Linked DNA regions of Homo sapiens. The protein of the gene in region 7 purifies or fractionates together with the protein of the main gene of each other region. This does not show direct contact. Each region holds a gene or a part of one and is shown on either strand. Other genes may lie near its edges. The genes, in order: FGG, AKR1B10, NDRG2, TF, CAPG, SERPINA3 and DDX19B.

Region 1 (3,594 bases), on a different chromosome or scaffold from region 7:
TCACTTGAGCCCAGGAGTTCAAGGCTGGCTGCAGTGAGCTACTGTTGTGCCACTGCATTACAGACTGGGTGACAGAGTGAGACCCTATATCCAAAAAAAAAAAGGAAAGGCAAGAAGAAAGAAAGAAGTGTGAAAAGAAAGAGAGTGCAAAGCCAAAGCTCAGGACTTCGGAACAACCAGACCCACCTCATAAAATTAGCCAATTACTTCCCACAGTCAGCCTTTTGCTAAGTTATGTAGATTTAGCTATTCCTTAGAAAGTTGGCGAATGAACCTGAACTCAGGCTGCTAAAAAGTCAATATCCCTGAATCAGAAGGAAGAGATGGTTCCATTCAGCTCACCTCATGACTAGTGAGAGATAGGGCAAATAGCTCCCTAAAGCTCTCTGCTCTGAGTTGCAGTCCTTTCAGAGTGACCAGGTCCCACCACAGGTGTTTGGAGCTAAAAGGTTCTGCTGGGAGACTCCCCAAGCAGCTTTCCTGTCTCCAGCTGCACTTTGGATACTATGCATCTTGGTTGTGTGGCTGTGACTCCTGCTTAGTGATTATGTTCTTGTATAGAGTATTGTCAGTTTGGGTTGCTGTATTTTCCTGTATTTGTCCTGTATCTCCTAGAGGGCAAAAGCCATAATTGCTATTTCCTTTGTAACTCCCAAAGAGTTAGGCATAACATTTAGCATAAAATGAGGACTCAATTACTACTGATGGTTGCCCAATTGTAATTGGTAAATTGGCAAAAAGTGGTGGTTTTTAATGGTCAATAAAGGTACCATGTATCTAGTCTTAGGAAACAAAAGGTTTATTGAAATGCATGTAGATAAATTATCATCAGCATAAAACTGTTATGGAGTTTTCAACATGGGGTCTTTTGCTCTTAAAATGAAGTGAAGCTTTGCAAGTCCATTGTCCAATAGGAAAAATATTATATCTCTCTGTTCAGATAAAGTCCTTTAAAAAAGTAAATCTCTTTTGAAACGGTCTTTTAAACGTCTCCAGCCTGTGAATATATAACAAAACAAAAACCATATTAAAAAGACATAATTTTCTCCATTTAAAAAGAAGAATTAAATAGGAATGATTTAGGGGTAATAAACAAGGAAAATACCTGGGAATTTGAAACTCTAAAATGTTCTCCTATTTTATTAAGTACATACTAAAATATTTGATATAATGAAAATAATTTACGAAGACAAAATAAATGACAAGTGGTCATAAAAATGCAAATAAAGTCAATCATTTTATTATTATATATTTAGGAACAAAGTTGAAATGTTATCTCCTCAAATAAACAATTTTTAAATAACTCTGATATCAGTAATTTGGAAATACAGTCCTAAATGAGTTTTAATTTCCATTGAAGGCTAAATGTCCTTAATAGAAGACTTGAAATCAATAAATATAGTAAGAGAAAAAAGGAAGAAACTTTCAGAGAATTTCTGAAACTTTGTGGGTCAATAGAAGTTAGCAGTTAATTTTCTACAAATCATCCTCAGGGTAAAGTGAGTCATATTCTGTTTCCGCAGGGTGCTCTGGTCTGACCTGTTTGGCTCCCCCCAGGTGGTGTTGCTGTCCTTCTCCAATTGTGAGTCTGTTGAATGGGATTATCTTCATAGTGGTTTTCTTCATGGAATACCACCGGGTTTTCCAAGTGGCCCAAATAATGCCATTATCATAACCATTAGGAGTAGATGCTTTTGAGTAAGTGCCACCTAAAACAAGTCGTAGATGTACATATCATTATTCTGGAATCTTTTTACCTCTGCAAGTCTATGAAGAGCTGTCTATTACGAAGTGCATTGCCAGTTACATAAAATTTATAGTATTATCTGCTAACTGAAAATATCTCCAAAGATTCCTAAAATATCAATTTATAAAATAAACATATTATTAAACAACATCTGTGCTGTGACTCATAGTCACATCCACACTTTAAATTTATTCACTACTAGTAGGGCTAGAAACCCAAAGTTCCCTAATTGGCCTCTGTCCCTAAGCTTATCCATCCCGGACTCAGCTGCTGTGGACCATCTTTCTTCAGGCAGGTTAGAAGAGAAGGAGCCACAAAATTCCTGATGAGGTCAACTCAGGTTATTTGAAAGCACAATTTTGTTGGTTGATTGAGGAGCTTTAGGAAATGGTTCTGGCATGTTATTTTATGTCTCCATTTTAAAGTGCAGCCTCTGTTGATTTGCCTTCTCCTTGTCCTAGGGAAGCAGATCTCATGTAATTCTGTAAAAGGCTTGTCAGAGCACAACACTGGCATGAACTACAGCTCTGGCATGGCGCCCCGGGTCACACAGATCAAGCATTTTCCCTTAGAGTTTCTTCTCATTATGTGGTTTGTGAGTGCAAAGATAAGTTATGTTTCTCCAATTTAAAAATATTGTGAAAATCAAACTGTTACTTTAAATAAACTGTGCAAAGTTTCCTAGTTGGTGATTGGCTAGGACATCAGGAGGTAAGGTTGCTCATCTTGGTAGATGAGGAGACTATGGTTTGCTACAAGCCCGGAGTGGTTTGGAACACTGGTTTCACTCATCTACCCAGCAGATATGGTAGGGAAGTCCTACTGATGCTAAACAGGTCTGGTCTGACTGTTTGGCTTTCCCAGGGTGGTGTTGCTGTCCTTCTCCAACGGAGAGTCTGTTGAGTGGGATTATCTTCATAGTGGTTTTATTCATGGAATACCACTGGGATTTCCAAATAATGCCATTATTGTAACATGGATCCTTTAGCATCGGTAAGGCTTCCCCACACATAACTGCTGGGTAGGTGAGTGAAACCAGTGTTCCAAACCATTCCAAGCTTATAGCAAACTATAGCCTCCTCATCCAACCCCCATCCTAAAATAAGTGTCTACTGTCCTCAGACTGGTCTCTTCTCTCAAGCTTTCACAAACCCCTGCCCTTACCAGTGCTTGCCTTCTCTTTATTCTGTTCCTCCAAACACCTGTTCACTGCGTGTATCTGACACAAAGCTCATGGGAAGCCAGGTTAATGTGTCAACAAGCATCCATGTAGTAATGTTAATCCATCCAGATCATTTATGTTGTATGTCTAAAGGAGATCCCACAACCCACAGTGCCAGCTATGATGGTGATAGTTTCACATATAATGCCAAACTACTGGATATTTTGCAGCAGGTGGATTTCTTTAGAAGGGCTAATTTTAGGCATGAACTTGGTATTATCCACTTCCAGTTTCAAAGAACTTAGTTGAAATAAAGAACATGATAAAATCCCTACTATCTTTATAAATTATTCTTCATTTCTTCATATCTATTTATTATTTTTTATGAAAATAGTATACACTATACATTAACTTGGAATCTAAGAAAGGAAAACATACCTTGGTAATAAACTCCATTGAGATGGCCAGCGTGACACTTGTTCATCCACCAACCAGATCCATCCTGTTCAGCACAGTTGCCTTCAAACTTATCATTGTCATTGTCCCAGGTACTGAACTGCATGCCATTATGGGATGTGAAAAACTTGTCACTAGGATCATCGCCAAAATCAAAGCCATCAAAGGCATCTCCAGCATCCCCACCAGCGAAGTAGGCATATGTTAGGCGGTACTTGTCAGCTTCAGG
Region 2 (4,725 bases), on a different chromosome or scaffold from region 7:
ACTTTCATGATTGATCTTTGGAGCCAAGGCTAATTATTTCAAAGCAATTAGATAATCCTCATTTTTTCCTTGAAAAGTTTTGTCTTCCTTTATTTCCCCAAATATACACATAGTTTACTGTGGCATGCATATTCCCATTGCAGTGCTCTATTCCCAGAGAAATATTTTTCTTGTAGGGACCCTCTCTCTGTTATTTAGGTTGACAGTCACTAAGGATTTACTATTTCAACAATACTAGCACTGCATGTCATCCAGTATACACTGGGAAAATAAAGTGCCGCAAGTGCATATCCAGGAGACTTTGTGGCCACCAGATTATGAGGAATGCATGTATTTAATTATTTATTTTTGGGACAGAGTCTGTCTCTGTCGCCCAGGCTATAGTGCAGTGGCACCATCTTGGCTCACTGCATTCTCCACCTCCCAGGTTCAAGGGATTCTCAGGCCTCCCAAGCAGCGGGGACTATAGGTACGTGCCATCATGCCTCGCTAATTTTTGGATTTTTAGCAGAGACAGGGTTTCACCATGTTGGCCAGGCTGGTCTCAAACCCCTAAGCTCAAGTGATCTACCTGCCTCGGCCTCCCAAAGTGCTGGGATTACAGGTGTGAGACACCATGCCCGGCCCATGCATTATTATTAATGTTGAAGTAGATAATTTAACAAACATCAATGAAGTATAAGATTTTTCACTCATAGTTGCAAAATATCATGCCAATTGCCTTCTATGAGCTGTCATAAGCCACAGCCTAGAGATTCAATTCCATTTCAAGATTCAACCAAAGCCAACTCATCAACAAGAACATGTAAAAGACAGAAAAACCCACTACCGGCAGGCTGAAACAGATGCTGTGACGTGGCCCTGGCCTGTCATGGCGTGTCACAGCATGGCACAGGCCTATATCATGTTCCCTAGATTGCTGACTACCAACTAGTTACAGCTGACTCCAATCAGGTCGGGATTTGACCATCTCTGCACTGAACCTGCAATTGCAACTTTTAAAATTGAAACGCTGCTTCTCACCTCTCCTCCCTAGACTCTATTTCACAGAGGAAACCATCACAGGGAAAGCAAGCCCTTGTTTTTTCTTCCTTCTTTGCTTTGCTTTCTTTCTCTCCTTCCTTCTTTCTTTCCTTCCTCCCTCCCTCCCTCCCTCCCTCCTTCCTTCCTTCCTTCCTTCCTTCCTTCTTTCCTTTCTTCCTTCCTGCCTTCCCTTCTTTCTTTCTTTTTTTTGAGACAGGGTCTCACTGTCTGTCGCCCAGGCTGGAGTGCAGTGGCATGATCTAGGCTCATTGCAACCTCCGCCTCCCAGGTTCAAGTGATTCTCCTTTCTCAGCCTCCCAAGTAGCTGGGATTGCAGATACGTGCCCCCACGCCCGGCTAATTTTTGTATTTTTAGTAGAGGCAGGGTTTCACTATGTTGGCCAGACTTCTTTCCCTCCCTCCTCCAACTCTTCTTTTCTTCCTTGCTGTCTCCCTCCCTACCTTCCAACTTTTGGCTGTGTTGAATTTGTTGACTCATCCTGAACAAGCAGAAACTCCAATGATACTGTCACCTAAGAGAGAACTTTGCACAAGGTTGCCATGTTTAATAATTCATTCACAGAATCCTCAATCTCACAAAAGCCTGGAATGGATTTCCTGTTTGGTTATGGCAGGGAAGCTACTGTGGCCAGGCTCCAACTCCTCCCACTGTAGATAGCAGCAGCCTTCTTAAGCAGCCTGTGGCCGGGCACAGTAGCTCACACCTGTAATCCCAGCACTTTGGAAGGCCGAGGTGGGCGGATCACCTGAGCTCAGGAGTTTGAGACCAGCCTGTCTCTACTAACAATATAAAAATTAGCTGGGAGTCACGGTGGGCGCCTGTAATCCCAGCTACTCGGGAGGCTGAGGCAGGAGAATTGCTTGAACCCAGGAGACAGAGGTTGTAGTGAGCTGAGATCGCACCACTGCACTCTAGCCTTGGCAACAGTGCAAGACTGTCTCAAAAACAGCAACAGAGAGCAGGACGTGAGACTTCTACCTGCTCACTCAGAATCATTTCTGCACCAACCATGGCCACGTTTGTGGAGCTCAGTACCAAAGCCAAGATGCCCATTGTGGGCCTGGGCACTTGGAAGGTAAATATGCAAATCTTTGCACACCCTTCTTCTCTGGAGGGGCGTTTGGGTGTTTTCTCTTTCTGCATTCAGCCAGGAAAGCCTGGAGGTCGGGCAGGGGTTGGAGAGGTAAGATTCAGCCCTGGAGCCAGGACTTAGGTTGCTTTCTTTTCTCAGAGCTGATTCAGGCTGCAAAGCTCCAAGGCTGGCTTTCCCAGCAGTGATGAGAGCTTCTCTAGCAAGTATCAAATTTCAAGCAGCTGTTGGACTTAAAACTGTTTTCCAGGGCAGTTTCTCTCTCTGGTTCTAGGACACTTAATTGGGCTCAACGTTTCCCCCAAGTCTTGGCTGTGGGTTTGTTGTGGGCTGGGTGGTTGAGGAGAGGATGCAGAGCCCGAAGTCCTTGGCACCCCTTTGCAGATCACGGTGTGAGACTTGGGCTAGCAGCATCCCTATGACCTGGAAACTTGCTAGAAATGCAAACTGGCCAGGTGTGGTGGCTTATCCCTGTAATCCCAGCACTTTGGGAAATCCAGACGGGAGGGTTGCTTGAGCCCAGGAGTTGGAGACCAGCCTGGGCAACATGGCAAGAATCCATTTCTACAAAAAATAAATAAATTTTCTGGGCATGGTGGCACGCACCTGTAGTCCCAGCCACTTGGGAGGCTGAGGTGGAGATTGAGTGTTGAGCCTGAGGGGTCAAGGCTGCAATGAGCAGTGATTGTGCCACTGCACTCCAGTCTGGGCAACAGAGTGAGATCCAAGAAAGCAAGAAAGAGAGAAAGAGAGAGAGAGAAAGAAAGAGAGACAGAGAGAAACAAAATGCAGAGTCTCAGGCTCCAACCCAGGCTACCTAATGGGCATCTGCACTTTAACAAGATCCCTACGTGGTTCCTGTACACATTGAAATCTGCAACATGCTGGGGCTGCAGAGAGCCTGGGCTGGGAGTCGTGAGCACCACCCGGCTGTGTTAACGACAGCTGGCAAAATGTGGTAAGGCACATCCAGGACTCAGTGAGGCAGGTTCCCGAGCCTCTGTTAGGCTAAGTTTCAAGTTGTTCCATCACCACCTCCCTCTGCCTTCTTTGCCATTTCCATCCATGATAGCACTACCCTAACTAGTGATGAGAAGCAGTCTTTGGAGTTCCTCTTCTCTCCTGTCCCTCATGGCTAATGTCCCTGCTGAGACTTCTGCCTCTGGCTCTCTTTCCTTCTGTGCACCCTGATTTTTCTTCTCTTCTGTCCCAAGCTAGAGGTTAGGACCCTCTGCTGCAGCACTGGGTCATCCTCAGGATACATTCTTGGTGTATCTGGAGGAACAGATCACTTCCAGCTTGATTCATGCAGAGCGTCTCTTGCTTGAATAGCAAGATTTGCCCAAAATCAGACCTTCAATCCTGTATAAACAGAATAAATAATCACTTCCAGATCTCCAGGGAATCTACTCACCCTGGGTGAGTTTACCAGACAGTTTCATAATTTTGGAATTGAATGAAAGAATTATGAAGGGAGCTGTCTTCAACACGTGGGGATGATAGACTAAAGGATTATGAACTTAGCAGTGGAGGTGAAGAAGGGTGTAGCGTAGCGGTTGGGGGCACAGGGCTGCTTCTGGGTGCCTGGCAGCAGCTCGTTTCTTGTCCAGGTGGTAGGGTAGCTGTGCATCTCTGTTTTGTGTACTGTTCAATGTTTGTTATCTCACAATTGAAGAGGTTTAAAAGACCATTTTGTGAGAGATCAAGTTTTAAGTGCTTTTTTGCCCCCATCATTGGCTTGGCTAGGTTAGAACAAAATGTGATAATTCTATTTCCCTTCTTTTCTTTTTTTCTTTCTTTTCTTTTCTTTCCTTCCCTTCTTTCTCTCCCTCTCTGTCATTCCCCTCCCTCTCTCTTTCTTTTTACAGGAGTGGAAAACAAACTCTATTCCTATAAGGTTTTCTATTTCTCTTTTTTTTCTGAAACGATCATTGTATAATGATGGCCTCTACTGAACCTTACTGTGTGTCAGGTAATGTGCAAAAAGCTTAATATTCATTGCAGCATCTCATCACCACAAAGGCCTCATGAGGCTGGTGCTATTTTTTTTTCCATTTTGCATACAAGGTTTACAGAGATTGAATCACCTGCTTAGACCCACACACCCAGTAAGTGATCGAATCCAGATTGATGGTGTAATGACCATTATCCAGATCCTTATCACCATTTGGGGAAATTGTCTGAAAATCCCTTGGGGTTATTTAGAGTCAAGCTTTCATCTGGGTCTTCAGAAAGTTGTAGTGGAGCGGTCTGCACCCCCACACACCTGAAGACATTTCAGGACTAACCTGGATGAAAAGGGAACTGACTTTTAGCTAGGATAGGACATAAGGACATAATCATAAAATAATTCACTTTCCTTCTTTTCTTTTGAAAAGTTTTGTAAAGTGTGTATCCTCCCAGAGATCCCCTGGCAAAGGAGACCCCAGTGAGGCCTTGGTTTGGAGAAACTGGGCCTTGTGGGGCAGCCTGTTGAAGGTGGCCTGGGGATAAGAGAATATGATGGTTGCTGAGAGTGGTGTAATTCCAGCTACTCGGGAGGTGGGAGGGTTGCTTGAACCTGGGAGTGTGAGGCCAGCCTGGGCAACAC
Region 3 (4,771 bases), on a different chromosome or scaffold from region 7:
TGAAGCAGTAACGACCTAACTCTTACCCCAAAGGGAACACAGGGGCTCCCTCTTCCATTCCAGGGGCATCCACATGAACCCGCACAAAGTTCTGAATGATTTCCTGCATGTCCTCGAACTGAAACAGTGGCTGGAAGCAAGATTTATCTAAAGAGAACCCACATCACCTCAACAATAGAATCAGACAGGGACTCGTGTCCCCCAGTCAGAACTCACCCTTCCTTTCATGCCACAGTCAGACCAGGAGAGAACTTCTCCTTCCCACACTGACCCCTCCCCTCCCTCTGGGTTTCATTTCTACCCTTCCCCCACAGCCTCTTCCCAGACAGGAGTGGGAGATGAATGAAGGTCCTTACAGTTGAGTCCCACATCGTGGTAGGTAAGGATCGCTGGGCGTTTGGGTTTGGGGGTGCCATAGACAGTGAAAGTGACAGAGCCGTATGGTGTCTCCACAGAGTGAGTCTGCAGGAAAACAGGGCACCAAGAGCTAGGCTCAGAGGAGACGAGGCCAGAAAAGGAGCAACACCAAGGTCAGGGAGCTGGGAGTGGGTGGGCAAGAGGGAAAAGGGAACAAAGAATTAAAAACAGGATCAGCAAGAATTGAGGAAAACATGATACCGGAAGATGAGTTTGAGGATAAGAAAGAATAATGAAGATTAGAGAGAGAAGAGGAGGGGAAGGAAGGAGAGGGGAGAGATAGGGAAGGGAAAGGACTAGAATAGAAGGAAAGAAAGCAAAGAGAGAAGAGAGGGCCAAGCAGAGGCCATCCTTCTACTGGGGAAGAGGACAGCCCCTCCTCCCACCTTGGGACTGCCCCCACACTGTTACCTGTCCCTGGTCCAGGAGGATTCGGGCAGCTAACTCAGCCTCCTGGAGAGACACACACGGATTCACACAGAAACACATGACCATGTGGCGTCCCAGATGGAGAGACAAACAGACAAAGAGAGGCAAGTAAAGACAGACCAACAAATGACCAAAGACAGAAAGAGATTGACAAAGAGAGACACGGAAAGGATGAAGGTTAGTGTAGTGACGAGACAAGGGCCTGACTCCCAATTATAGTGTATGGGGAGAGAGACTAGGGTAGTGGTGAAGCAGTGGTGTGAGTTAGAATAAGATCAGTACGCTTGGGAAGTTAGAAGGCAAGGGGGATGCTTAGAGGTCTGGAATTTGGGCATGGGAGTCAAACGGTCTCTAATAACCTTGGCCGCCTCAGGCGTCTGTCCTGGCAACAGTGGCTTCTCCTCTGTGATCTGCACCTCCTGCAGCTCCGCCATGGTGGCCTGGCAGGATGAGGAAATGAGACTGGGAAGTTGTCTCTACATCCCCACATCGCCTCAAACACCAGGCTTCCTCTCTCAGCACAGGAAGATGCAGGGAACAGAGGGACCCAGGGGTTGAAGACTACTCTAGAACACACAGAGGGCCTTTCCTGCCCCCAGCTCCGTTTCCAGGCTGATCGGTGGAAGCTTTGGAAGAGGAATCAGGACAGCCCTTCTCTTGATACTCACCATCCCCACTGCCACCCTCAACACCACACCTCCAGACCCCTCCCTCCTCTGCCCTGGACCAAAATACCAGGGTGGGGCAGAAGTGTAGCTCAGATTTCTCGGGCTATATTTAGGGGCCACCCCACACTCTCAGGTAGGGAGTGAAACTTGTAGCTCAGTGACTGAGTATTCTAAAGGACAGGGTACCAAAAGACGGGACTGTGAGAGTTCACAATTGACCATGACCTTCAATTAAAGCCCCAAAGTCGGCAGCTCAAAGGGGGCTAAAAATGACCAAAGCAACATGACCAATGGGGGAGGTGGGGAAAACAACATAAAAGGGACATCTGTCCAACCAACCCAATGCCTCCCTTCCTCCCAAGACCCTTCCTCCCAACTCTGAATAAACTCCGCAAGTTCAACATTAGTGGGTGAGGAGCAGAGCACCTGGACAGACCTGCACAGGAAGGAGCCTGCAGCCTGCGGGGTGGGGTCACTTACTGGGCTCCTATTGGCTGGATGCAGTGGGATTAGGGGTCAGGGTTCTCACTCCTTCTGACTCTGGGGTCTGAGAAAACACAGCAACGAGGTGAATGACATGGGAGACAGACCTGGGGTCTTTCAGGGACGGAAAGCCTCAGCCAAGACCCAGACTCCCAGGGTCATCAACCTCCTCGGGTCACTAACCCTCCCCAGTGTCTGTCTACCCCTAAGTCCAGAGAACACGTCCTCTCTAGGCTCGAGCCGGAATCAATATAGGCTACAAGGGCATCAGTTCAGGCTGCGCGGAGGAGAGAAGGAAGTGCTGATGTGGAGGTAAGAGGGTGGCCCTGTCAGAACCTCCGGATTCGAATCCCGGCTCTGCCACTCCCAGTGTGACCTTGCCCCAGTTAGTTACTACATTTGGCCTCAATTTTCTATCTGCAGGGGGACTAAACGCGGGGGAATAGGGGATCCCCAAAATTTTTGACAGCTCTCCAGTAAGAGGAGGGTAGCAGAGCATGGCTGTTTCCCTCCACAATTTAAAAACAAACACAAAGATTGGTGCCGTCGCTTCTCTCCTCTACTCAGTCTCCGTGTAGGTCCCACGAGTGGAGAAAGGGAGAGGAGAGCGGTCCCACAATCTTCTCCCGTTCTCCCCCGACGGCCCGCGAAGGCAAGCGCCATCGGGAAGGGATGGGTAGGACAGAGGAGACCGGCCGGGCCCAGCACCCGGAACCCGTCCCTACGAGTCCCTACGCAGCCCGTCCGCGTGGAGACTGACACCCTTGCGTGGCCGGTGCCAAGCGCCCCGGACCTTGCACACAACCTCGCGCGCACCCCAAACACGCCCTGCAGCTCTTGGAGCCTCAGCCTTTGTGCGCAGCAACCGAGCGCCCGCTCCGTGCTGGCCCTTTCCCCCGAGCCTCCAGCTCCAGGGGACGCGGATCAATCACACCGCCCGCCGGCCCGGCTGGCGCCTTCCAGGCCCTACGGCCCCTCGCCTGCCCCTCCCCCTACCTGCTGCCGCCGCGGCCGCTTCCACCTTCACTTGCCTTTGACTCGGGCCCGCCCCGGCTCGGGCTTCCCGCAGACCCGCCCCCGGCCCGCCCCAGCCCGCCCACGGGCGCTAGGCTCCCCGCAGACCCGCCCCAGACCCCCAGTAAACACGCCCCCCCTTTCACCCCGCCCAGACTGCCGCTCAGGAAAGGGTTGTGCTGGGGCCGGGGGGCGAGGGGCGGGCGGCTGGACGCTTCCAGGCTCTGCTCGGCTCACCAAAACATTCCACCACCCCCTCCCCGCATTGGGGCGGTGTGGGGAGTGCGGGGATCCCTCAGCCCTGAGAGGGATCCCTCGGCTGCCCTCAGCACCGCCCCATCCACGACCTGGATCTGCAATTGCACTCTGGCTCCTTCCTTCGCCCCCAGACTCAGTGGTGGGAACCGGTAGTGGGGAGACGAACCCGGGATACTGACACCCCACGAGTTCGACTCCCCCCGCCCGAACACAGAGAACTAGATTAAGAAAGGAGGAGGTGGGCGGGACCGCCGCTGAGGAGGCGGGGGTCTCGCCGGCTGGCAGGGGCAGGTGTGCTGGCGCCGAAAGGGGGCACGGGGGAACGTCGAGGGCGCAGGAGTTCCGACTCCCTCGTGCCCAGAGTCCTGGTACCTCTCCTCTCTTTGCTGCGTCCCGACGCCTGCTCTCCGGCTGCTCCGGGAGAAGTTGGACAACAAGGCGGGGAGGTGGGGGCGGGGAATGCGGGGGGCCGCTATAAATAGAGGGCGATCGCGGGCAGGCGGGGGGTGGGGAGAGGATGGCCAACAGGGACTCTGGGGTCAATGCCTCAAGGGGCGCGGGGGAGGGGCCGGGGACCCCCAGAGGCTCTGACTCCTGGGTAAACAGGCGCAGGGGCGGAGTTAACCCTGCGGGGGTGGAGTAGGGGCTTGGGGAGGACGCAGTGTCCTGGGCTGGGACCCAAGAGACCCTGTGGCTTCGCCGCTAACCCCTCCCAGTCCGGCCCAGAATAGGAGACCAGCTCAGGCCCGCTGAATCGCAATGCCCGGGGGATGGTCTCAGGGTCTGCCGCGTCCCTCTCGGTGCCCGAGTGGGTTTGCCACTGTAGACTTTACACACACACGCACACGCACACACACACACACACCCTGGAATGAGCTCTCCTTGTGCCCCTCGGAGGAAGGCTCCCTGGAATGAGTTAGTTGATTAAAAATGTGGCTTAAGGGAATTCGAAGTTGTTTAGGCAAAAGGAAACCTGACTGAATTTCTCCCCACCTGCCCCCCTTGTAGCTCCCCCAATCCCAGGATCATATCCACCCCAACCCCCTTCAGACTGGTTCCTGAGTTGCCATTTCGGGGGCTGGGCGCCAGGCCAGTCAGGAACAATGGCCAATGGAACTTGAGCTGCCAACTGCAACACCAGCACCGACTGCCCCCCCAAGACCCCCAAGTTTCCCTGCCCCCTCCTGCCTGGGAACCACCCTCCCACCACCACCCTCACCACCCGCAATACCCCTCCCATCCAAGGAACATCAATGCCCCTTTCATCCCCACTTGGCAGGGTCTACTGGAAAGAAGGAGAGGCCAAGAGGGAGGAGGTGACCCACAGTAGGAAAACTGGTCGGGCTAAAACCCAGCCTTCAACAACCCCAAATCTAAGGAGCTCCCCCTACATCCCCCAATTTGGAGCACCCAACTTTTCTTCTGTTCCTTTCTCCCACTCCCTTTATAACTTTTTCCCCAGAAACTGGCACAGAAGCTGGGCACCCTGGCTCCTCTCCTAG
Region 4 (4,101 bases), on a different chromosome or scaffold from region 7:
AGACTTCCTTTGAGGTCTTCCTCAGGTGCTTCTGTGGAGATTTTTTTTCTGGGGGAAGATGGGAACCTTGAAAACATTCGTCTTCACTCTGACTCAGTACTCAATGCTCTTCCTTCCTGTCCTGGGTCCATAAAACTGCATGACCCTTTTGCTGAGGGATTGGGCACTTTCTCTGGGTTTAGCTTCTTGGTGATACTATGTACTGAATGATCAAAAGCTTGATTATTATTTCCATTTTTGCTCATCTCTGGTATAATTGTCTACTCCAACACATGGGCAGCTCATCTCTCTTTCTCTCTCAGCTCCATTTTACAAGTGAGAAATATGAGGCACAGAAAGGTTAAGTCACTTCCCTGGGCCACATAGCCAGTAAGTCATGGAGCTGGGATTTCAGTGCAGACATTCCGGGTTTATTTCTTATCATTACACTGTTACTTCAGGTTATGTTCCTTTTTGACTTTGTGCTTCTGTAAGCCCTCATCTTTACATCAACAGGTCCCTTGAAATATTATAGCTGCCTTCTTACTAGATCTATAATTTATTTTCTTTTTATGTAAATCCTTAAAGTGAGCCCAACCATCTTTTATTTAGACACTTAAACACATAGTTTTACTCCTTTTTTGTTTTAAATGTCTTTAATCAAAATGATTTTTCCAGAAGCCCTTGCCAGTTCTCTATGAAGATTTCTTATTGATCAAATTACAAAGCAGGCCAGGTATAGTGGCTCATACCTTGTACTTCCAGCACTTTGGGAAGCCTAGGCAAGTGGATCACCTGAGGTTAGGAGTTCGAGACCAGCCTAGCCAATATGGTGAAACACTGTCTCTACCAAAACAAACAAACAAAAATTAGCTGGGCTTGGTGGCACATGCCTGTAATACCAGCCACTTGGGAAGCTGAGGCAGGAGAATCGCTTGAACCTGGGATGCAGAGGTTGCAGTGAGCCGAGATTGTACCACTGCACTCTAGCCTAGGTGACAGAGCAAGACTCTCAAAAAAAAAAAAAAAAATTACAAAGCAAAAGCTATAGTTCCATGAACTTTGTTGTGTTACAATCAAGTAATAAGACAATAGTATTTCTAAATGAAATAAAATATGTTGTAAGACAAACTATATCAGCAGTCTCGCTCTTGTCCCTCAGGCTTGAGTGCAATGGCTCAATCTCGGCTCACTGTAACCTCTGCCTCCAGGGTTCAAACGATTCTCCTGCCTCTGCCTCCCAAGTAGCTGGGATTAAGGCGCCTGCCATCACACCCGGCTAATTTTTGTATTTTTTTTAGTAGAGATGGGGTTTCACCATGTTGGCCAGGCTGGTCTCAAACTCCTGACCTCAGGTGATCCACCCGCCTCGGCCTCCCAAAGTGCTGGGATTACAGGCGTGAGCCACCGCACCCAGCCAATTTTAACCATTTTCAAGTGTACATTTTAGTGGCATTAAGTACATGCATTCACGTTGTTTTATAGCCATCACATCTATCCATCTCCAGAAACTGAAACTCTTTACACATTAAACAATTACCTCCTATTTCTCCCCCACTCCAGCCCCTGGTAGTCATTATGCTACTTTCTGTTTCTATAAATTTGACTATTCTAGATACTTCATAAAAGTGGAACTTTGGGAGGCCGAGACGGGCGGATCACGAGGTCAGGAGATCGAGACCATACTGGCTAACACGGTGAAACCCCGTCTCTACTAAAAATACAAAAATTAGCCGGGCATGGTGGCGCGCGCCTGTAGTCCCAGCTACACGGGAGGCTGAGGCAGGAGAATGGCGTGAACCCGGGAGGCGGAGCTTGCAGTGAGTCGAGATCGCGCCACTGCACTCCAGCCTGGGCGACAGAGCGAAACTCCGTCTCAAAAAAAAAAAAAAAAAAAAAGTGGAATCTTACAATATTTGTCCTTTTGTATCTAGCTTGCTTCACTTATGTTTTCAAGGTTCATCTCAGTGTAGCATATATCAGAGTTTCATTTATTTTTAAGGCTAAAAATATTTCATCATTTGTGTTTACCACATTTTATTTATCTATTCACTCATCAATGGATATTTGGGTTGTAAAACATATTTTTAATATACCACAATACAAAACAAAATTAACAGACATCATGGGCCTTTCTGTTCCACAACAACTAGACCTTATATATGAAACACACTTCGTGGTTTTGTTTAATCTGCAAACACCTTCCCTTCCCCAGTCCTCACATTGTTGAATAAAAATGAAGCAAACAGGGTGCAGCACACCAACATGGCACATGTGTACATATGTAACAAACCTGCATGTTGTGCACTTGTACCCTAGAACTTAAAGTATAATAAAATATATATATATTTTTTAAAAAATGAAGCAAACAAACGAGAGCTTTGCCCATTGCAGTGGGGTTGGGAGAGTGGTCAGGAACCTGGTCTTTCTTTGCCAAGACACCAAGAAATCACTGGTGCCTCGGGGGCTCAGGGAGCCAAAGAGCTAAGGCCTAAAACACAGCGTCCAGCCCTAGAGCTGCAGGGTTCCCAGGGGAACCTGCGCCAGCTGGGAGGGACAGGATTATAATCAAGCAAGCTCTCACAAGTCAAAATAACCAAACCCAGAAGAGGGAAAGCTACAGAGAGAAGGCTGGAGGGAAGCCAAGGGGAAGCCAGCAGAAAGACACGGAAAACCCCAGCGCGGGGATTGAGGGAAGCCAGGCTGCATCTGGATGTTTCTTCCACCTTTTCCCTTCGGCTAACCTACTGCTTGCTTTGTGCTGAGAACTGTAGAATTTCCCACACTTGACACATCTGTCCAAACCTCTGCACTAAGAGACCTGACCAGACTCTGGCATGGCTCCTAGCAGAACAAATCTGTGTCCCTAGGATGGCCCGGTTCCCCTTAAAGTGCTTGCCTGAGAAAACTCAGTGCTGCCAGGAAAATGTACCTGTTTCTTCTACTCAACACACAACTGATGATAGGCCCCTGACCTCCCTTTCCAAGAGAATTTACTAAAAAGGACTTAAAACTGTGAATATGTATCTCTTGAAACTCACAAGCATCTCTCTCAAGGACTGAGAGCCATTCCTTTGCAACACAATCATCAGGATGGATAGAGTGTCTGTCTCGCAGTCTCTGCGGGAGAATAGAGTCCTAATCGAGAGAACTGCCAGCTATCAGACACAGCTGGCCTCCTCACATTTACACTGACCAGCCCTTTCTACCTTTTTACTTCTCTGACTCTACAGAGCCCTGCGTTCTCCCCTCCCTCATTCTCCCTTTAAAATGCTCACATCACCACTGCACAAATCAGAATGGAGCCTAGCTCTTTCCCCCACTGTCAGCAGTTACTGAATGAAACCTATTGTCACTGCCTAAACTAATATCTGGCTGTGCTTATCTTTGACAGCTCCCATCACCCTGGCCTCCCACTAGCAACTTAAATAAGCCCACTCTGCTCTGCCTCAGGCCCTTTGCATATGCTCTTGTTTGCTGCCTGGTGTATTTTACACTGGAGCCCACCCAGGCTCAGTCCTTCATTACATCTCTCTCAGAGAGATGGTCTCTGACCACCCAGGACAAAGCAGGTTTTTCTGTGAGTCCCTGTCAGAACACTCTCCTTTTTCCCTCCATTGTACATCCCCACATTTTGGAATTAGTAGTTTACTTATTCGTGTGTTTTTCTGCTCTCCTGACTAGCCCATGAGCTCCCTGAGGGTAAGGACCAATGTGTTTAATTCACCACTGCAGCCCCATTGCCCAGCACAGGATCTGACATGTACAGATGGGCAGGGGCAACGTTGAAAGAATGAAGAGCATTTTTGTAGACCTAAGAACAAAAAGATCAGCTGTCACCTGCAATCAGGACACTTTACTCTTCCCCCTGCATGCATCACTCATCTTCCCAGTTGTGTATCAAAAGCTGCCAAAGAAGGTTATATAATAATTTTGATAGTGGGCATTCTTATTTATTTATTTATTTTGAGATGGAGCCTCACTCTGTCACCTAGGCTGGAGTGCAGTGGCAGGATCTTGGCTCACTGCAACCTCTGCCTCCCCGGTTCAAGTGATTCTCCTGCCTCAGCCTCCCAAGTAGCTGGGATTACAGGCATGCACCACCATGCCCAGCTAATTTTT
Region 5 (4,101 bases), on a different chromosome or scaffold from region 7:
TCACCACTGTGGGCCCACTGCTAAAACAGAGCCCGGCATGGATTTAGGCGCAAAATAAATATTGACTGACTGAGTGAAGGACTGGATGGGTGAATGGCTGAATGGCTCCTTGAGCGCAGCATCTCACACTTCTACCCACCGCCCTGCCAGGCAGAGCCCCTGTCACCTCTCCTTTTCTGGTAATGGCGAGGTCTGTTCACCTGTCCCCTTCCTTGTCTCAGCACGTGTAGTCCTCACCAAGAGCTCCTGGATTGATCTCCCTGCCCCAAATCTTCAGCGCCACAAGACGCAGCCCATACTCCTCAGCCAGCCAATCTCCTCATGACCTAGGGCTCACCTTCCACCTTGCTTAGGAATTTCCCTCCCCCTGCTCCTGTCCCCCAGCCCGGGTCCCAGTCTCACTAGACCCCTGGTGTGTGCATGTCTGCACCCTTCCCCACCTTGGTGGCTCAGCTCACCTTCTCCCTTTGCCTGGAGTGGCATCTCCCCTCCTATAGGTCTAGTCCAATGTCACCTTCCTGGGACAACTGGCTTCGGCTCAGGCTAGAGGGCCCCTCCCTGCCCCAAGACCCCCCCAGCACATGGCAGCTGTCCCCCTTAAAGCCCTCATCACATCCTGCCTCAGGTTATGGCAAGTGACTGGCCCATCTTGGCTGCCTCCCCAGAGCGAGCTTTTATGGTCCCTGTGCTGGCTCAGAGAGAGCATCATAGATTCACTGAACGAAGAGATAAATGACTGAATTAATGAATGGTCTGGCAGGCAGTGAACTCAGAGGCTTCCAAGAGGAGGGAAAAAGCTCCAGAGCATCAGAGGCAATGTCTAGATGGCAGAAGGAGGCTGGCATCAGTCCTTACAAATATAGGGACATTCTCCAATGGTCAGAGTGATCTCACTTGGAATGGGTTTACGGCTTCTCAGCTTCTCTCCCTCTTTCCTGGCCTCCTGCCCCTCCGTCCTTATAAAGGATGGTGCCAATACGGAGTGCTCAGTCTGGCCAGCCTACCCACCTGGCCCAGGTCCAGGATGAAGCAGTCCCCAGTGTTGAAGCTGTCCCAGTTCAGTGCCCGCTCGGTGGCACGGATGTTCTTCTTCCCCTTCACCTGGTAGAGTTTCTTGATGGCAGCTGGGGCTCCTGTGGAGGTCTTGTGAAATGCTGACTCCACACCACCTTCCTGCAGCCCAGACGGCCCATCTGAGTGGACTGACAGGAGACCCAGAGCCCTCTGCACCCCATCCCACTGGAAGACGGGCAGAAAGGTGGGGACCCGGCTCCAAAGGCACCCGGGTCTTCTGCAGGGTGAGAACCAGCCAGAAGCAGGGCTGGCTCTGAGGGAAGCTGCAGGGTGGGGGTGCCTAGAGGTGGGCTCTGACCTGGTACTTGAGGCCCCGTGGGAAGTAGCTCATGAAGAGGTCAGACTCATTGCCCTGCACCTCGCGGTGCTGCACAGGCCGCTCTCCCAGCAGCGTGTTGAGGTGCACAGCCAGCACGGCACAGGCCCCCTGCTCATCCCGGGATGACTGCTGGCCTGGGACAAGTGGGAGAGGGCAGGGCAAGGCCCTTGTGATCCATACCAGCCCCCTCCCTCCCCTTCCTGGGCCCAACCTTCCCCCATCCAGATCCCCTTACCTATCCACAGGTGCAGATGGGAAACCTCTTCTGGGCCATTGTGCAGCACTAGGTAGGAGTCCCCCGAGAAGAAGACGCCCTGGTTCTCTTGCGCCACAGGCACCGGCTTCAGCTTCTCCACCCGCCACACATGCAGGCCTGGATCCTGCACTGAGCCTGGGAATGGAGAGCCACTGCGAGAAGAGAGAGGGTTGACAGCAGCCTGGACCCACTTGCCCAAGCACAGCCCTGGGCAGGCCTGGCGACTGCAGTCTGGGGATGAGGAGAGCAGTGGGGAGGGGCAGCCCTTGGAGGTAAAGAAGGGGAAGTTGTGAAAGGAGATGGGGCATGCAGCTTACCTCTGGGGAATGGCTGTGTACATGCTGTCTTCAGATCTGGAAAGAAAGAAGAAGCCATTATTATTACAAATGCCACAAAAAGGACCTCTCACGTGGGGCTGGAGAGGCCCTTTCCAGTGGCCAAGTACTTTCATATTCATCAACTACTCCACCTCTAGGAGCCCTAGTTCCATTATGCAGACAAAGAAAATGAGTCTCAGAAATGAGTCCAAGGCCACACAGCTAGTGAGTGGTTCATGGAAATAAGGTCTCTGACCCCTGGGCCAGGGTCTTCCGTCTGCTGAGATCTCACAGAAATTAAAATAAAAGCAGAAATTAACAGAAAACAGAAACAAGAGAGAAGAGCAATGAATTTTTTTTTTGAGACTGAGTCTCACTCTGTTGCCCAGGCTGGAGTGCAGTGGTGCGATCTCGCCTCACTGCAACCTCCGCCTCCCGGGTTCAAGTAATCCTCCGGTCTCAGCCACCCAAGCAGCTGGGATTACAGGCAACACCATCACACCTGGCTAATTTTTGTATTTTTAGTAGAGATGGGGTTTTGCCATGTTGCCCAGGCTGGTGTTGAACTCCTAACCTCAAGTGATTTGCCCATCTCAGCCTCCCAAAGTGCCGAGAGTATAGGCATGAGCCACCATGCCTGGCCTCAAGTTGGCTTTTTTTTTTTTGGAGACAGAGTCTCACTCTGTCACTCAGGCTGGAGTGCAGTGGCGTGATCTCAGCTCACTGCGACCTCTGCCTCATGAGTTCAAGTGATTCTTGTGCCTCAGCTTCCCAAGTAGCTGGGATTACAGGCCCACACCACCACGCCTGGCTAATTTTTGTATTTTTAGTAGAGACAGGGTTTCACCATGTTGGCCAGGCTGGTCTTAAACTCCTGACCTCAGGTGATTCACGCGCCTCAGCCTCCCAAAGTGTTGGTATTACAGGCGTGAGCCACCGTGCCTGGCAAGTTGTTTTTTTAAACCGATAAAATTGATAAATCTTTAGACAAACTGATTAACAGAAAGAGAAAACACAAATATCAATACAGAAATGAGAGATGTGAGATCACCATAGATTTTACAGATATTAAAAGGATAAAGGGAATATTATAAAAACTTTATGCCAATATATTCAACCACTTATATAAAATGGGCAAATTCCTTCAAAGACACAAATTATGAAAGCTCATTCAAGAAGACACAGATTATCTGAACAGTGGCCATATCTATTAAAGAAAATAAATTTGTAGTAAAAAACTCGTTCCCCCGCCAAAAAACCCAAGCCCAGATGGCTTCCCTGGTAATTTCTACCAAAAATTTAAAAAGGACATAATACCAATTGTACACAAAATCTTCAAAAAAAGAGATGACAGAACACTTCTCAATTCATCCTATGCTGCCAACATTCTCCTGATAACAAAACCAGATAAATATATTATGCAAAAAGAAAATTACAGATCAGTATCTCTCATGAACATACACATACAAAAATTAACACAATTTGGCTGGACACGGTGGCTCACGCCTGTAATCCCAGCACTTTGGGAGGCCAAGGTGGGTGGATCATGAGGTCAGGAGTTCGAGACCAGCCTGGCCAACATGGTGAAACCCTATCTCTACTAAAAATACAAAAATTTGCTGGGTGTGGTGGCACGTGCCTATAGTCCCAGCTACTCAGGAGGCTGAGGCGGGAAAATTGCTTGAACCCAAGAGGCAGAGGCTGCAGTGAGCTAAGCCCATGCCATTGTACTCCAGCCTGGGTGACAGAGTGAGACTCCATCTCAAAAAAAAAAAAAAAAAAAAAAAATTAACAAAATTTTAGCAAATGAAATCAAATAATATATAAAAAATAAACCATGATGACCAAATGAGGTTTATCCCAGGAATGCAAGGTTGGTTTAATATCTGAAAATCAGGGTGATGATAGCTAATAATAATGCAGTGTATATTTCAAGATAGCCAGAAGAGAGGATTTGAATGTTATCATCACAAAGAAATGATAAATGTTTAAAGTGATGGATATGCTAATTACCTTGATTTGATCATTATACAATATATACACATACATTGCATATGTACAATGAAACATCACACTGCTCCTGCTAAGTATGTGCAATTATTATCTGTCAATTATAAATTTAAAATAAATAAATA
Region 6 (3,500 bases), on a different chromosome or scaffold from region 7:
TATAGTCCCTCGAGATGGAAAACTTTGGCAGGTAGAGCTCACCTATCTCTCTAGAAAACGAGAAAAAAAAAGTATCTGAACCTCTGCTGATCAGTACCTACCTGCCTCCCACCTCGCAGCATGGTCTTCCCTGGTTTCCTCTACAGTCACCCCCTTCTGATTGGAAAATAAATAATCTGTTCCTCAATTTCTTAACCCCTGTCTTTACTCTTCTTATTCATTAATTATTCATTCAGATCTGCAAGTGTGAAAGTCTCCAGGCAGCACACCAAGCCTGGAGTTGTGGCCCTGCTCGAGCCTGGCCCTGCCCTTTCCCTGCAGCTTGCAATGCAGTTGAAGCACCTTCACACCAGCAGGGACCCCTGAGTGTGTTGAGAGCCTGGGCTGGGCCAGCTGCAGTGGCTGCATGGCAGCCTGCTTCACGGGGGCACCAGGAGGGCTTCCTGTAGGAGGTGGTGTTGAGGCTGAGTCCCAAAGGCAGGAAAGGAGCTAGCTAGGTGAAGAGGTGGGCAGGAGGCAGGTGGAAGAACCTGGAAGAAGGTGGGAGCAGGAGGAGTTGCTCCACGGGGCGGTGGGTGATCTCAGTGTTTCAGGGAGGAGGGTAGTGAGGGATGAGGTGGGCCAGGAGCCAGAGGCAGGTCAAAAAGGGCCTGGGGGCCTCTGAAGAGTCTGATTGTGTTAGAAGAGCTTTGGGGATCCTGAAACAATCAATTGGAGGTTCCCATCTTGCCTCACCAGTGGGCACTGTCCCTCAAGCCAGGTGTGGGCTGGCATAGAGCAGGTAGCAAGCTCCTAGAGGCCCAGGTCACACCTGCCACCTGCAAACTCCCCCTCCCTTAGTTTATAGCCCTCTTAAGATGCCTGTCACTGTCTGCCTGGTCTTACAATTATACAGGAGGCTGTGTCTTCCATTAAACTCTGAGTCCCCTGAAGGAGGAAGGTGTCCTATTTCTATTTTTATTCATTCATTCATGTGTTTGTCCGTTCATTCCATCCTTCATTCAACAAGTATCTATTGAGCATTCTCTGTGGGCCAGGAGTGTGTGGACACATGTTTCCTCAGCATTTTGTAAATCAAAAGTGTTTGGAGAATTCTTTCCACTCAAAATTATCTGCTGAGCCCCTGCTCCCTGGTGGCTATTAGGTGCTAAAGGAGGAAGGAGTCTGGGAGTAAACGGATGGGTTGGGTAGGACCCCCACGTTCTGGGGTCTCCTGGGATCTAGAGTGAGGAGGGGCTGAGGGTCAGGCAATCCCGAGAGGTGTCCGGCCTTCTGGACAGTGGTTGGGGCAGGGGTTGCAGCCTCAGGTTAGTGTTGAAGCAGCTCCCTTGCCCTTAGTGGTTTATTATGGCTTCAACATACAATACCTCACCGGATTCTCACAATCACCCAGTGAAAACAGGGGTGGTGGGGAAAGGACATTCCTTTCTCTTCAGGAGGTAGCTGAGCTCCAGAGAAGAGCAGCGACCTGCTCCAGGTCACACCAGCCACCACGGTCTGAACCCAAGGCTGGTGCTCCTTCCTCTCTACCCCACACAGCTGCCCACATGCACTCCCTGGGCCCACTGCAGGGTCTGGGCCCGGAACTACTGCTCCTCCTCACTGTGTCCCCATGAAATCGGTCAGCTCAATTCCGTGTGTCCCAGCAAGTTCCTCTACCCTCAGATTTATCCAGAACTCAATGACTTCTCACATGCATGGCTCCCTCCTGGATCCCAGCCACAGTGGGCTCCCACCTCATGTCTGTGCCTGGTTCCTGCGGGTGTCACTGACTCCATACCTGCTCTACAGTTATTCTCCTCTCAGCAGCCAGGATTAGTCTTTTAAAACAACACTCGGATCGCAGCACTCCTCCAAACCTCCTGATGGCTCTCCATTTCACACACAGGAGGAAGGGCAAGGTTTTCTAGGGGTCTACGTGGCCCTACCTAAGCTGCTCCACCCCTTTGGGGACTCCTGACCTCTCTCAACTCTCTCCTCACTCTCTCTGCTCCTGCACCGTGGTGGAGCTGAAGTACACAGGCAATGCCAGCGCACTCTTCATCCTCCCTGATCAAGACAAGATGGAGGAAGTGGAAGCCCAGCTGCTCTGGCCTGACTCTTCTTTGACCACATCAAGCTCACTTCCACCTCAGAGGCCTTGCACTGACTGTTCCCTCTGCCAGGAATGCTTTTCCCTAATATACCAACATGACTCCACCCCTCCCCTCTGTTATATGGATGCTCAAACATCACCTAATGGCTACTCTATCTAAAATCACAAACTAACACGAGTTCCAGTTTTCCTGATCCTTTCATCCTCCTCTACTCAATTTCTATCCCCTTACTCAATTTCTCACCTTCTAATATATCACGTAACTTATTTGTTATATTTATTTATTGCCTGTCCCCTCTCCAATTACAAATTAAGCTCCAGGAGGGCAGGGAATCTTGTGTTTTATTTGCTGATTTACTCTCAGGGTGCAAATTAGTGTCTGACACATAGTAGGTGCTCAATTAATCATGCAGCAAATGCTGAGAGAATGAATAAATACAGTGGTTCACCAGTGCAGAACTGATTCTCAGAGTCCATCTCACTGCAGCCCTCAACTGATCACAATTCCTTCTGTTTCTCTCTCCCTTCAAGAGATTGAGACCAGGAGAAACCATGCATGAGTGTTTGGGACTGTGCAGAAGATTTCTCATGACTTAGAACATGCTGGAGTCAGAGGAAGCCTCAGCCCCTTGTCCTGTCTGATGTCATTGTCTTAAAGAAGAAAAAGAAAAATCAAGCCCAAAGCCATGTAGGCAGCATAGGGCAAAGTAAGTGTAAATTCCACCTGTCCCTGTATGAGTTCTCCCACCACCATGCCCTTGTCCCTGGACATTGGTGAGACCTTGACGTGGAGAGATGTGGGGTCTTTGGGGGCCAGGAAGAATCACCTGAACTCCAGAGAGTCTCTCCACCGCTTCAGGGTCTCTGGGAGCAGCATGGCTTCCACTTCCTCCATCTTGTCTTGATCAGGGAGGATGAAGAGTGCGCTGGCATTGCCTGTGTACTTCAGCTCCACCACGGTGCAGGACAGCTCCTCGTCCCGGAAGTAAGGTATAGTCAGGTGATGCAAACTCATCATGGGCACCATTACCCACTTTTTCTTGCTCAAGTAGAACCTTGACTGATGAGTATCTTGGGGGTCAAAGGGCATCTCCCATTTGGCTGAAGGTGGAGCAAGCAGTTGGAGAAGGTGTGAGTGCAAGGGTCGCCCTGCTCGACCCTGCTTCCGCAGCAGTGGAAGTGCCCAGAGTCCCTCATAGGAGGGACCCTGCTTTGGTTTAGAGAAGTAGCTTGGCAAGAGTAAAAGTTATTGGGGGTGAGGGAGAGCCCAGCAGGCTTGGATTGGGAAAAGGGCCACAAAAGAAAGACCTAGTTCCTTGTGCTAAATGAGAAATCAATAGGAACCAGGGAATAAGGAGTGCAAGAGAGAAAGAAGGTTTAGGGAAAGTGGGGGAAAGAGGCATGA
Region 7 (4,101 bases):
GGCTGAAGTGCAGTGGCGTGATCTTGGCTCACTGCAAGCTCTGCCTCCCAGGTTCACGCCATTCTCCTGCCTCAGCCTCCGGAGTAGCTGGGACTACAGGCGCCTGCCACCATGCCCGACTAACTTTTTATATTTTTAGTAGAGACGGGGTTTCACCGTGTTAGCCAGGATGGTCTCGATCTCCTGACCTCGTGATCTGCCCGCCTCGGCCTCCCGAAGTGCTGGGATTACAGGCATAAGCCACCGCGCCCAGCCTCCCATTTCTATTCATGGAAATGGACAAGAAGTTTCTGGTCCCTTTCTGCTTTGGTGTTGGGAAAGAGGAAAAAGAAAGGGAACACATTAAAGAGATTAGAAAAAAGCAACTTAACAAAAAGGAAACCATTCAACTGGAGAAAGCCGACTGAAAAACAAACAAAAAAAAAAAGAAATCATTATAAAGCAGTAAAAATCCTTCACTAATTCTGAAGGATAAAGAATACACTAATGGGGGAGGGCAGTGGGGGACAGCATTAGGAAAAAGAGCTAATACATGTGGGGCTTAATACTTAGGTGATGGGTTGATAGGTGCAGCAAACCACCATGGTACATGTTTACCTATGTAACAAACATGCACATCCTGCACATGCACCCTAGAACTTTAAAAAAAAAAAAACAGCTGGGCACAGTGGCTCACACCTGTAATCCCAGCACTTTGGGAGGCTGAAATGGGAGGCTCCCTTGAGGCCAGGAGTTTGAGACAAGCCTGGGCAACATAGTGAGACTCCACCTCTATAAAGATTAAAAATAAAAATATTGACAGGGCATGGTGGCTTGTGACTTGAATCCCAGCACTTTTGGAGGCCGAGGAGGGAGGATCCTTGGAACTCATGGAGTTCGAGACAAGCCTGGGTAACATAGTGAGACCCCATCTCCTAAAAAATAAATAAATAGGCTGGGCATGGTGGCTCATTCCTGTAATCCCAGAGCTTTGGGAGGCTGAGGCAGGCTGATCACCTGAGGTCAGGAGTTCGAGACCAGCCTGACCAACATGGTAAAACCCTGTCTCTACTAAAAAAATATAAAAAAAATTAGCCAGGTGTGGTGGCGCAGGAGGCTGAGGCAGGAGAATCACTTGAACCTGGGAGTTGGAGGTTGCAGTGAGCCAAGATCACACCATTGCACTCCAGCTTGGGCAACAGAGTGAGACTCTGTCTTAAAAATAAATAAATAAATAGACCGGGTGTGGTGGCTCACGCCTGTAATCCCAGCACTTTGGGAGGCCGAGGCAGGTGGATCACCTGAGGTCAGGAGTTCGAGACCAGACTGGCCAACATGGTGAAAACCTGTCTCTACTAAAAATATAAAAACTAGCTGGGCATGGTGGTGGGTGCCTGTAATCCCAGCTACTCAGGAGGCTGAGGCAGGAGAATTACTTGAACCCAGGAGACAGAGGTTGCAGTGAGCCGACATGGTGCCACTGCACTCCAGCCTTGGCAGCAGAGTGAGACTCCGTCTCAAAATAAATAAATAAATAAAAATAAATACATAAATAAATAATAAATTTAAATAAATTTTAAAATAAAATAAATAAATATATTAGCTGGGCATGGTGGTATGTGCCCATAGTCCCAGCTACCAGGGAGGCTGAGGTGGGAGGATTGCTTGAGCCCAGGAGTTCCAGGTTACAGTGTGCTATGATCTTGCCACTGCATTCCAGCCTGGGTGACAGAATGAGACCCCATCTCTATTAAAAAAAATACACACATATATACACACACACACATATATACATACACACACACACACACACATATATATACATATGGCCAGATGTGATGGCTCACGCCTGTAATCCTAGTACTTTGGGAGGCCGAGATGGATGGATTGCCTGAGCTCAGGAGTTCGAGAGCACTGTGGGCAACATGATGAAACCCCATCTCTACTGAAATATGAAAAATTGGCTGGGCATGGTGGCACGTGCTTGTAATCCCACCTACTTAGGAAGCTGAGGCATGAGAATCGCTTAAACCCGGGAGGCAGAGGTTGCAGTGAGCCGAGATGGTGCCACTGCACTCCAGCCTGGGAGACAGTGCGAGACTCTTGTCTCCAAAAAATAAAAAATAAAAAAAGACATATTATTTCATAGACAATATTAATCTTAAAGATTAATGATGCAGCTGCTTTGGAAAACATCCTGGCACTTTCTCAAAAGTTAAATACAGAATTACTATATAATCCAGCAGTCCCACTTCTAGATATATACCCGAGTATTGAAACTATATGTCCACACAAAAACTTGTACATTAATCAAAAGCAGTATTATTCATAGTAGCTAAAAAGTAGAAATAATCCAAATGTCCAGAAATTGATAAGTGGATAAATAAAATGTGGTATATCCACACAATGGAATATTATTTGGCAACAATAAGGAATAAAGTACTGATACATGCTACAACTAATGAACCTTAGTTCATTATACTAAATAAAAGGAGCCAGTCACAAAGGATCACATACCGTATGTTCCCATTTATATGAAATGTTTAAAAGAGGCAAATCTAAAGAGACAGAAAGTAGATTAGTGATTGCCTAGAGCTGGGGAGTTTGTAGGGAAACAGGGAGTAACTGCTAATGTGTACAGAGTTTCCTTTTGGGGTGATGAAAATGTTCTAAAATTGACTGTGATATAAGCTACACACTTCTGAATACACCAACCATCAGTGAACTGTACACTTTAATCTCACCATAATGTCATAATAATAGGGTCTCAAGATTCTGTTTCATAAAATGCAGGAATTTGTTGTTGTAAGGTTAATAAAATGGCTAGTTTGGGCCTGCTAAAAACAGCAAGAGTTAATCATTTCATACCTGAGTTTTTATTATCACTGGATTCATTATTATGAGTTTCTGTTCTATCCAAAAGATAACTCTATGATGCAAACTCAAGCCAAAAAGAAAATGTCAAAGCTACCTACTCCTAACAAACCCTCTTAGGCACATTAATAGGTTAAAACAATGACAATTTAACCTGACCTGAATGGCCGGGTGCAGTGGCTCATGCCTATAATCCCAGCACTTTGGAAGGCCAAGGCAGGTGATAGCTTGAGCTCAGGAACTTGAGACTGCCCTGAGCAACATGGTGAAACCCTATGTCTACAAAACATACAAAAATTTGCCAGGTGTGGTGGTGCACACCTGTAGTCCCAGCTACTTGCAAGGCTGAGGTGGGAGGACTGCATGAGCCTGGGAGGTCAAGGGTGCAGTGAGCCATGTACACACCACTGCATTCCAGCCTGGGTGACAAAGTAAGACTCTATTTCAAAAACAACAACAACAACAAACAACAACAACAACAACAACAAAACTGACCTAACAAGAAGTTAGTTAAAATAGTCAAAACTCTCAGAACTAAAAAATAAAAAAAACAGGCCGGGTGCTGTGGGTCATGCCTGTAATCCCAGCACTTTGGGAGGCCGAGGCGGGCGGATCACGAGGTCAGAAGATCGAGACCATCCTGGCTAACACGGTGAAACCTCATCTCTACCAAAAAAATACAAAAAAATTAGCTGGGCATGGTGGTGGGCGCCTGTAGTCCCAGCTACTCGGGAAGCTGAGGCAGGAGAATGGCGTGAACCCAGGAGGTGGAGCTTGCAGTGAGCCGAGATTGCGCCACTGCACTCCAGCCTGGGCGACAGAGTGAGACTCTGTCTCAAAAAATAAATACATAAAAATTTAAAAAATAATAATTAAAAAAACAAAAAACCTCTCAGAACTACTTGAAACACATATTTATCTCTACGTTGACTAATGATGTGTTTTTTTTCTAAGTGTATATTGTGCCTTGAGATATTGGCTAATAAAAATATGAAGCCAGCACACACAAGCACAGGAAAGCATTATTTCATTTTTATCTCAGCCTTTATTACTTTTTTATTTGCTTTACAATGTACATAATATATTTAATAAAACAGTAAAGTATGCAATTTCTAAATAGATATTTACATATTGAGAGTGAATGATCAAAAGTTTCTTTGCAACAAATAACAAACTACACAGTTCATTTACTCAGTTAACAATGCCTGCCAGGTTAGGCATGAGAAATGCTCAAATGGATAAGGACCA

The links.
Region 1: the proteins of DDX19B (region 7) and FGG purify together in Homo sapiens (affinity purification with mass spectrometry; 2 studies listed by BioGRID and IntAct, with this or other methods). This does not show direct contact.
Region 2: the proteins of DDX19B (region 7) and AKR1B10 purify together in Homo sapiens (affinity purification with mass spectrometry; 2 studies listed by BioGRID and IntAct, with this or other methods). This does not show direct contact.
Region 3: the proteins of DDX19B (region 7) and NDRG2 purify together in Homo sapiens (affinity purification with mass spectrometry; 2 studies listed by BioGRID and IntAct, with this or other methods). This does not show direct contact.
Region 4: the proteins of DDX19B (region 7) and TF purify together in Homo sapiens (affinity purification with mass spectrometry; 2 studies listed by BioGRID and IntAct, with this or other methods). This does not show direct contact.
Region 5: the proteins of DDX19B (region 7) and CAPG purify together in Homo sapiens (affinity purification with mass spectrometry; 2 studies listed by BioGRID and IntAct, with this or other methods). This does not show direct contact.
Region 6: the proteins of DDX19B (region 7) and SERPINA3 purify together in Homo sapiens (affinity purification with mass spectrometry; 2 studies listed by BioGRID and IntAct, with this or other methods). This does not show direct contact.

What each region holds. Positions count from the first base shown.
Region 1 is NC_000004.12:154,603,358-154,606,951, forward strand, and holds the end of FGG (fibrinogen gamma chain isoform gamma-B precursor), read right to left. Parts: coding exon 3,348-3,594; intron 1,710-3,347; coding exon 1,477-1,709; 3' UTR 998-1,476; coding exon of another isoform or gene 983-997; 3' UTR 814-982; downstream 1-813. UniProt on the Homo sapiens protein: Together with fibrinogen alpha (FGA) and fibrinogen beta (FGB), polymerizes to form an insoluble fibrin matrix. Has a major function in hemostasis as one of the primary components of blood clots.
Region 2 is NC_000007.14:134,525,858-134,530,582, forward strand, and holds the start of AKR1B10 (aldo-keto reductase family 1 member B10), read left to right. Parts: upstream 1-1,709; 5' UTR 1,710-2,054; coding exon 2,055-2,120; intron 2,121-4,725. UniProt on the Homo sapiens protein: Catalyzes the NADPH-dependent reduction of a wide variety of carbonyl-containing compounds to their corresponding alcohols. Displays strong enzymatic activity toward all-trans-retinal, 9-cis-retinal, and 13-cis-retinal.
Region 3 is NC_000014.9:21,022,036-21,026,806, forward strand, and holds the start of NDRG2 (protein NDRG2), read right to left. Parts: upstream 3,027-4,771; 5' UTR 1,995-3,026; exon of another isoform or gene 1,941-1,994; intron 1,473-1,940; exon of another isoform or gene 1,287-1,472; coding exon of another isoform or gene 1,281-1,286; coding exon 1,206-1,280; intron 871-1,205; coding exon 829-870; intron 463-828; coding exon 357-462; intron 148-356; coding exon 27-147; intron 1-26. UniProt on the Homo sapiens protein: Contributes to the regulation of the Wnt signaling pathway. Down-regulates CTNNB1-mediated transcriptional activation of target genes, such as CCND1, and may thereby act as tumor suppressor. May be involved in dendritic cell and neuron differentiation.
Region 4 is NC_000003.12:133,749,007-133,753,107, reverse strand, and holds part of TF (serotransferrin isoform 1 precursor), read right to left. Parts: intron 1-4,101. UniProt on the Homo sapiens protein: Transferrins are iron binding transport proteins which can bind two Fe(3+) ions in association with the binding of an anion, usually bicarbonate.
Region 5 is NC_000002.12:85,400,157-85,404,257, forward strand, and holds part of CAPG (macrophage-capping protein), read right to left. Parts: intron 2,003-4,101; 5' UTR 1,990-2,002; coding exon 1,967-1,989; intron 1,802-1,966; coding exon 1,629-1,801; intron 1,528-1,628; coding exon 1,373-1,527; intron 1,174-1,372; coding exon 1,009-1,173; intron 1-1,008. UniProt on the Homo sapiens protein: Calcium-sensitive protein which reversibly blocks the barbed ends of actin filaments but does not sever preformed actin filaments. May play an important role in macrophage function.
Region 6 is NC_000014.9:94,618,891-94,622,390, reverse strand, and holds part of SERPINA3 (alpha-1-antichymotrypsin precursor), read right to left. Parts: intron 3,197-3,500; coding exon 2,923-3,196; intron 51-2,922; coding exon 1-50. UniProt on the Homo sapiens protein: Although its physiological function is unclear, it can inhibit neutrophil cathepsin G and mast cell chymase, both of which can convert angiotensin-1 to the active angiotensin-2.
Region 7 is NC_000016.10:70,305,368-70,309,468, reverse strand, and holds part of DDX19B (ATP-dependent RNA helicase DDX19B), read right to left. Parts: intron 1-4,101. UniProt on the Homo sapiens protein: ATP-dependent RNA helicase involved in mRNA export from the nucleus.